Regions from separate parts of the Homo sapiens genome. Here regions 2 and 3 are each linked to region 1. The links come from fine-mapping of genetic effects on gene expression. A gene starts in region 1. Each other region holds a variant in brackets. All regions are shown on one strand. Distances are between the middles of the regions. Region 1 holds the start of PHLPP2 (PH domain and leucine rich repeat protein phosphatase 2). Region 2 overlaps AP1G1 (adaptor related protein complex 1 subunit gamma 1). Region 3 overlaps PHLPP2 (PH domain and leucine rich repeat protein phosphatase 2).

The links. PIP is the estimated chance that this variant, and not a neighbour inherited with it, causes the effect. A credible set is the group of variants that fine-mapping cannot tell apart.
Region 2: its variant is the best candidate, but not a certain one, in a credible set for the expression of PHLPP2 in whole blood (TOPMed, PIP 0.83).
Region 3: its variant is the best candidate, but not a certain one, in a credible set for the expression of PHLPP2 in whole blood (INTERVAL, PIP 0.57).

The regions. Positions count from the first base shown.
Region 1 is chr16:71,723,731-71,726,408 of GRCh38, forward strand. PHLPP2 (PH domain and leucine rich repeat protein phosphatase 2) reads right to left here and starts at 971. Exons shown (of 19, transcript NM_015020.3): 1 at 599-971. RefSeq lists a silencer at 1-544.
Region 2 is chr16:71,764,747-71,767,424 of GRCh38, forward strand. AP1G1 (adaptor related protein complex 1 subunit gamma 1) reads right to left here. Exons shown (of 23, transcript NM_001128.6): 7 at 743-838. Among named protein-coding and RNA genes, the nearest start is that of SNORD71, 7.6 kb to the left of the region's middle. The variant T/C (reference allele first, on the strand shown) is at 1,307.
Region 3 is chr16:71,666,076-71,668,753 of GRCh38, forward strand. It overlaps PHLPP2 (PH domain and leucine rich repeat protein phosphatase 2), which reads right to left. Exons shown (of 19, transcript NM_015020.3): 12 at 1,103-1,258. It also overlaps the pseudogene RNU6-208P. Among named protein-coding and RNA genes, the nearest start is that of SNORA70D, 31 kb to the right of the region's middle. The variant G/A (reference allele first, on the strand shown) is at 1,270.

The sequences.
Region 1 (2,678 bases):
GCCCGCTCGCTCGCTCGCTGGTCCATCCGCCTCCTCACCTTCAGGACCCGGATCCCTCCCGGCCGGCGGCTCGCGGGCGCTTCGGGCGGCTCCGGGGGCTCCAGCGGGCCCGCGGGCCCCGGCTCCACCTCCCCCATCGGCGACCCAGGATTCACAGAGACGCCCGGCCCGCGCGACGGCGTGCGGAGCCTCGGCGGCGCGCGCGAGCAACCGGTGGCCCCGCCCCCCGCGGCCCGCCGGCTCCGCCCCTCCGGCGGCTCGCCAGCTCCGCCCCTCCCGCAGCCCCGCTGGACCTAAGCAGCTGCCGGCGCCGAGTGGCCCGGGCGCCACCGAGCCGCATTCCGGCCGCGGCCCGCGTGGCGGAACCTGGCACCACCGCAGAGCGCTGGGCCTCCACTGCCCGCCGCCCTAGGCTTGGAGGACTAGAGCGCAAGGAGGGGTATTTGCTGCTTTCCCCGCCCTCTAAGAAACCCGCGGGAGAAAGAAGCAGGTGGCGCCGGCACCTGTCAATTGTGACAAGACGCTGCCCTCCGCCAGGGTGGCTCTTGTAACTTCCCTCACCTGCCAAGCCGTTGAACGAACTGTTGAGAATACTCACCTTGGCAAGGCCTTTTCTCTTCCTTATCAGAGATGCGTGCGACCTTCTTAAGCAAATTCAACCCAACCTCGTACAAAACGTCCGCTCACCTCCCAGCCATGTTTTAATTCCCTTGCCTCCTCCTGGAGCAAAATTATCAGAATTCGGTGCTCTGCTTCAAGCAGTAATATGGCCTGTGACCCGGTTTATGATTTATTTGCAAGGCTGATTCAGAAAAAAACTTTTAAAAGTTAACTTCTTTTCTTTTCTTTGTTTTGTTTTTCTTTTCGTTCTCGCAGTGATAGTAGTTTTGTTGCCAATGGGCCAAATTTGGAGTCAGCCAGCCTGTTTCCAGATCTCCCCTCTGCCCTTCTTTAGATCTATACCCCTGTGCAAGTTACTTGATCTAAGCCTTTCGTTCTTAAGCTGTGAGAAAGAGATTAAAATCTGCCAAGTAGTTATGATGAAGATTTAGTGCATACAAAGTGCCTAACGTATAGTGGGGATCCATAGTAGCCATTATAATTCCAAAATTCTAAATTGAAGATCCAATCGGTTTCTCGAAAAGTACTCTGTCGATTCCTCCTAAATTTTCCTAGGAAGGCTTCTAGACTTCCAGATTTTTAGGGCTTCCCCTCATACATAGGGTGTTGAATCTTCAAGCAACTTGTAAGGAATTAGACAGCAAAAAACAGTAATTTCTTCACTTTCATAGAACTGTAATTCCAGTACTTTGGGAAGCCAAGGCAGGCAGATTACTTGAGGCCAGGAGTCCGAGACCAGCCTGACCAACATAGCGAAACCCTGTCTATACCAAAAATACAAAAAAATGAGCTGGGCAGGGTGGCGCACGCCTGTAATCCCAGCCACTTGGGAGGTGGAGGCAGGAGAATCGCTTGAACCCGGGAGGCGGAGGTTGCAGTGAGACGAGATCGTGCCACTGCACTCCAGCCTGGGTGACAAAGCAGGACCCTTTGTCCCTATTATCCATTGCTTCAGTTTGCCTCATTCAGACTAACTGTATGTCTAGAATAATTGCAGGCTTAGTACAAGACTTTTAGATTTAACAGAGCAGTCTGTGTCCCCCATCTGAGATATGTATCCATTTGGAGATATTTTAAATGCCAGGACCAAATTTGGCTCTTGCAGGTTCCGACCCCTTTCTGACCTACTTTCTCCCTTCACAAGTTAGCTTTGTATATACCAAAATTCCAATCTCCAGTAATCTTCATTTCTTGGCCTCATTTTAATGCATTAAAAACGATTTGTCACTGTGAGTCTGGTTTAAGGTGGGAGAAAACTCTTAGGTCATCCACCTCCTGGATTTTCCTTCCACCTTGAAATTATTTTCAGGAAAGGTACTCAAAGTAGTTGGATTCCCATTTCAGTGCTTACTGGGTAATTTCTCCCAACAAGAAAACTGGTATATAAGCAATAGGCACCAATATGGAGACAGAAGCAAATTTTAACAAGGGCAGGCAAGCAGTGATAAGAAAAAAATGTGGTTTAGAACAAGTGTTTCTGGCTGGGTGCAGTGGCTCATGCCTGTAATTCAGCACTTTGGGAGGCCAAGACGGGCAGATCACCTGAGGTCAGGAGTTTGAACCCAGCCTGGCCAACATGGCAAAACCCCATCTCTACTAAAAATACAAAAATTAGGCAGTGTGGGGGCACGAGCCTGTAGGCCCAGCTACTCAGGAGGCTGAGGCAGGAGAATCACTTGAACTTGGGAGGTGGAGGTTGCAGTGAGCCGAGATATCGCGCCACTGCACTGCAGTCTGGGTGACAGAGGGAGACTCTTGTCTCAAGGAAAAAAAAAAGTGTTTTTCAAAAGCCTTTTATATTTTTTTTATTTTTGAGACAGGGTCTCGCTTTGTTGCTCAGGCTGGAGTACGGTATGGACACAATCATAGCTCACTGCAGGTTCAACCTCCATGGGCTAAGGTGATCATGCCACCTCAGCCTCCCAGTAGCTGGGACCACAAGTGAGCACCACCCTACGCTTGGCTACTTTTTGCATTTTTTTTGTAGAGATGGGGCTTCACCATATTGTCCAAGCTGGTCTCGAACTCCTGAGCTCAAGCCATCCGCCCACTTCAGC
Region 2 (2,678 bases), 41 kb after region 1:
GGTGTCAACAAATTATGTCTCACACAAAGAAATCTCACTTGGTATGAAATTCAAATAACTAAATGAAGTCTTAGAAATTCATTTGGAACCATTTATTCATATCAGAAATAGTCAAAAATCAAACAGAAGAATTGAAAACATTTTCTTTATTTAGAGAAGCTATATATGCTTCTACATCTAATAAAGTTATTATAAAACAACCCACACTTCAGTACTCCACAGCTAAAGGATACTACCAGATACTACCACCTGCAGAGCTATATTAAATAATTCAAATAATAAATGATTTTGACTATTAAAACTGTAATTTGAAGTGGGGCACAGTGGCTCTTGCCTGTAATCCCAGTACTTTGAGAGGCTGAGGGGGGCGGGCTACTTGAGTCCAGGAGTTTGAGACCAGCCTAGGCAACATGGCAAAACCCTGTCTCTACAAAATATACAAAATGAGCCGGGCATGGTGGCATGCACCTGAAATCCCAGCTACTTGGGAAGATCACTTGACCCTGGGAGGTCGAGGCTGCAGTGAGGCAAGATTGTGCCACTGCACTCCAGCCTAAGTGACAGAGCAAGACCTGTAATTGTATCCTCTTAATCTAATATAGAATTGTGTCACTATTCATTAATATAATTAATCAATTAACTACCAAATTTCTACTCAACACAAACTTAAGAGGAAGGAAATTGTCTACTTAAAGATATTAAATTCATATAACATTTATTTAAAACGTTCTTTCAACCTCACCTGCAAAAAGGGGTCACTGATACCAGAAACATCATGTTCTGGTGAATATCCGGACATGATGAGGTTCTTTAAAATACGAACTAATTGGGGCACAAGCTGCAGAGAAGAAAGATGCATCAAAAAACAGTGAATATTGAAGAATGTCTCATGAATAAGCAGGTCCTTTGGTTTAGAAAAAGGGTGTAAGGGTCCCAGTCCAAGCAAATTCTACTGATTTAATATACTAGTGTATTGTAGATGTTTGATAAACTTAGGAGTAACTTAGGGCAATATTCAAGAAGTAGTATGTATTTTATCTGGATAAAACCAAACCAGACTTTTTTATGCAAGAGTTATATGTAAAGATATTACAAATAATATTGGGTCAGAAAGCCTATGGGAACCAGGTAAAACAGATGCCTATGGGGCATACCGCATTTCTAGTTCTGTAGAACTTGAAAAGCCTAGGTGGCAAAAACATGTTCAGTTTTCACCCATTCAAACATTTGCATGTAACATGTCATCATGCCAAAATACAACTAGTGATCTTATTAAAATTATAGCTTTAAAACATACAACCTCAAA[T/C]AGAGAAAAAAATCTCTTCTCTTAAGATAGAAGAGTTATACCCTTTTCCAACAAACAACAGGGAATACCAAAGCTGACAATAGTAATACGGTAATCAAATGGAAGACACATGAAAAAATTACATCTTTCATCTTAAGAGACATCAAGGCCATGAATAATTTCCTCTTCCTATTCTTAACTCCTATGATACAATTTTTTTAAATTTCAGGACTTATTTATATATATGGCTTTATGGCCTGTTTTCTTGTCTTTTCAATGAGACTATACATTCCTTATAATCAGGAATTTCCTTCCTATCCTTCCTTTACTTTATCCATTAAGAGTCCTAACACATAGTAAAGGCAATTTTACTGCCAAGCCGAAGATGTTTTAAATATTGGCACTCATTTCATTTCTGTTGATCAATTACTTGATATTAAAACAAAAGGTTTGCCACAATAGGAACTTTTTATGTTTCCAACTAAAAACTCAATTTTTAGCTATATAAACAACTCTAATGACCAAAAATTAAGTTAAATAGTGTGCAAAGTGAATTGCATTCCATCTCTTTTGCAGGCAATTTTAGCTACAACTCTGCTGCAACTCAGTTATTTTTTCTCACTATATTTAGACTCTGTCCCTTCCCTACTCCCCAAGCCTAAAAGGGGATCAAGATTGAAATGAAAAGCCAAGCTATATCCAAGGCATGCACTCAAAGCATTCAAAACATTAAGGCCACTTATAAACACAAGAAAACACAGTATGTAAGAATTTAAATAAGTTGAGCCATAACAGTTTGGAATTAAGTAACTTATAAGTCACCTAAACAAAAGTCTACTTTGGACAACTCCAAATAAGACAAATCTAAGCCATGGAGATCTGTAAATTCATTAAATCTGTCAACTATGGGCAAAGTTATATTAGAGATAATAATATACCTTTTAAAACCACTTTAAATCAATATTTTTGTAATAAAATGAAGACCAAGTAGTTACCAACCTTATCTTACATACTTCCCAATGGTCTGTTTTTTTTGTACTAGATATAACCCTAGTTATTTTTTATCTGGTTTATTTCTTGGAAAAGTCATTTTTCCTTGGGCTACTAAATTCAGAAATTGTTTTATCCACTGCCAAAAAGGCCAGCACATCACATAACATTACCCTGGGACACAGAGCACAAATGACTAAATGTTCAGCATACAATTCTTGGAACCCAGTTTCATTTTTCAGACAAAAATGCAAGTTATTAAAACTGATGACAAGACAAACAAAATAAGATGACACAGGGAAAGGCTGCAGCCATGAAAATCAGTTGGTGCCCACTACTCTACCTCAAAATCCTTTTAATATTCCAAAACTTCTATGTAAGATTAAGTACAGGTAAGAGAGAA
Region 3 (2,678 bases), 58 kb before region 1:
AAAAACTAGTTTTCAGTGCTTGCTTTGGCAGCACATGTACTAAAATTGGAACGATATAGAGAAGATTAGCATGGACCCTGAGCAAGGATGACAGGCAAATTTGTGAACCATTCCGTATTAAAAAAAAAGAAAAGAAAAAGAAAAAAACTAGTTGTCAGGTTGGGTGCAGTGGCTCATGCCTGTTAATCCCAACACTTTGAGAGGCCAAGACAGGCAGATCACTTGAGTCCAGGAGTTTGAGACCAGCCTGAACAAAACGGTGAAACTGTGTCTCTACAAAAAATAAAATTAGCCAGGTGTGGTGGTGCATCCCTGTGGTCCCAACTACTTAGTAGGCTGAGGAGGAAGGATCACTTGGACCCAGGAGGTCAAGGCTGCAGTGAGCTATGATTGCACCACTGCACTCCAGCCTGAGTGACAGAGTGAAACCATGTCTCTAAAAGCAAAAAACAAACAAAACAAACCCCACAAAAAACAAATAAACTCCACAAAACTAGTTTTCACTTAAAGGTGATGTACACATTAGGTAAACCTGATTACAGGCCTAAAATAGGAAGACATGTCATCTATTTGTTAATTTATAGTGAGAAGGCAAATGACACCTTCTGGAAGGACATTATCTGTAAATACAGTTTTCAAAAAGTACACAAAAAGGTTTGCACATAAAGACTGTAATTCAAAGGCGGTTTGGTAAAGCTAGGAGCAAAAACCAAATTAACTTTAGTGGTACGTCCTTTTCTCTCCAATGCAAAAGCTCAAAATTGCCCAAAGAAGCCACAGCAGAATGTTGTAATTTCTCTTTAAATATCATAACTATATTCATTTTCAGAGATGAAAGCCTGAATCTTCTCAACCTGTCTGAAATTGTTTACAACACAGAAACCTCTTTAAGGATTTAACAGTTATTTCAACTATGAGTTACTGCCTCATAAAACAGTGTCATATTTTGTTTCATAAAAATTGCAAATAAGTCTCCACTCATAGTTGGACTATTAGGTAAACGCTCTGTAAATACAGTTCCAAAGGTCACTCCAATGATAAGTCACTGCAGTCTGTTTAGCCAATGATTCTGCTCTTCCGAAAAAAATCCTATGATACTTACTTTAAGGCCTTGGAGAAGAGGGTGTCTGGCAGCCTCGTGAGTGCATTATGCTGAAGATCCAGCACCTCGAGGGGGATGTGCTCTACCAGTGTTGGAAGGTTTTGCACATGATTGTGTCCCAGCATCAGTTTTCTAAGACTCAAGCTACTCAGAATTCTAAGGGGGGA[G/A]CATACAAACAAACACATTAAAAACTTACTTAAATCATTCTTTCTGAGGCTGTCCTAGCCTATTTAACTGAAATTAGTTAACTTATAGAAACATATTCTCCTAGATTGTATACTCACTGACAAGTGCCTGAGCCAAGAAAGCAGCTATGACCATATGTTTACCTACCACCCACCAGGAAGTCATTAAGGTCATTCTGAGAAAAGGTGAATTAATGAAGGCAAACAGCACAGAGGAGATCTATACTAAAAAGGCAATTTCTAGAATAAATCAATTTAGATTTTAAGTCTAAGCAGCACCAAAAATTCAGTATATTAATATTAACACATCTTGTGAATAAATTCATAACATTTCATTACAATAAAAACTACTATTTATGGAGTGCTTAAAATGTGCTAAGCCACTTAACAATGAAGTTAATTCAGAAAGGTTCAGTAACTTTGATTTGCCTAAGATTTCACACTGCATAGTAAATGGTAAAGTCTGGACTTGAATTAAGGTTTGACTCCAAAGATTGTGTTCATATTTAGTATGTTAAACGCCTCTAGTTTAATTTTAAAGACTCCATAGAAAATAACATTTTATACCTCAATGCTTTGGAATGTATCATTCCCTGCCGCCTTCACCAAGCCCCACTCTCTTTCTCCCACCACTTAGAAAAATCCCATCATCTAGTAAAGGTCAATTCAAATGCCATCTTCTCCATGAAACATTCCCTAATTATTCAAATTTCTTCTGATTTTCTCCATTTAATTTATACAGTGTAGTGATTAAGAGTGAAGGCTCTGGCCGGGGGTGGTGGCTCATGCCTGTAATCCCAGCACTTTGGGAGGCAGAGGCGGGCAGATCACAAAGTCAGGAGATCGAGACCATCCTGGCTAACACGGTGAAACCCCGTTCTCTACTAAAAATACAAAAAAAAATTTAGCCGGGCGTGGCAGCATGTGCCTGTAGTCCCAGCTACTCCGGAAGCTGAGGCAGGAGGATGGTGTGAACTCAGGAGGCAGAGCTTGCAGTGAGCCGAGATCGCGCCACTGCACTCCAGCCTGGGCGATAGAGCGAGACTCTGTCTCAAAAAAAAAAAAAAAAAAAAAAAAAAAAGAGTGAAGGCTCTGGAGTAAAAACGACTACATCCAAGGCCAGGTGTGGTGGCTCACGCCTGTAATCTCAACACTTTGGGAGGCTGAGATGGGCCCATTGCTTGAGCCCAGGAGTTTGAGACCAGTGTGGCCAATATAGCAAAGCCCCGTCTCTACTAAAAATACAAAAATTAGCTGGGTGTGGTGGTGTGCACCCATAGTCCCAGCTACTGAGGGGGAGCTGAGGACAGAGAATCACCTGAGCCCAGCAGGTTGATGCTGCAGTGAGGAGTGACTGTGCCACTACACTCCAGCCTGGGTGACAGAATGAG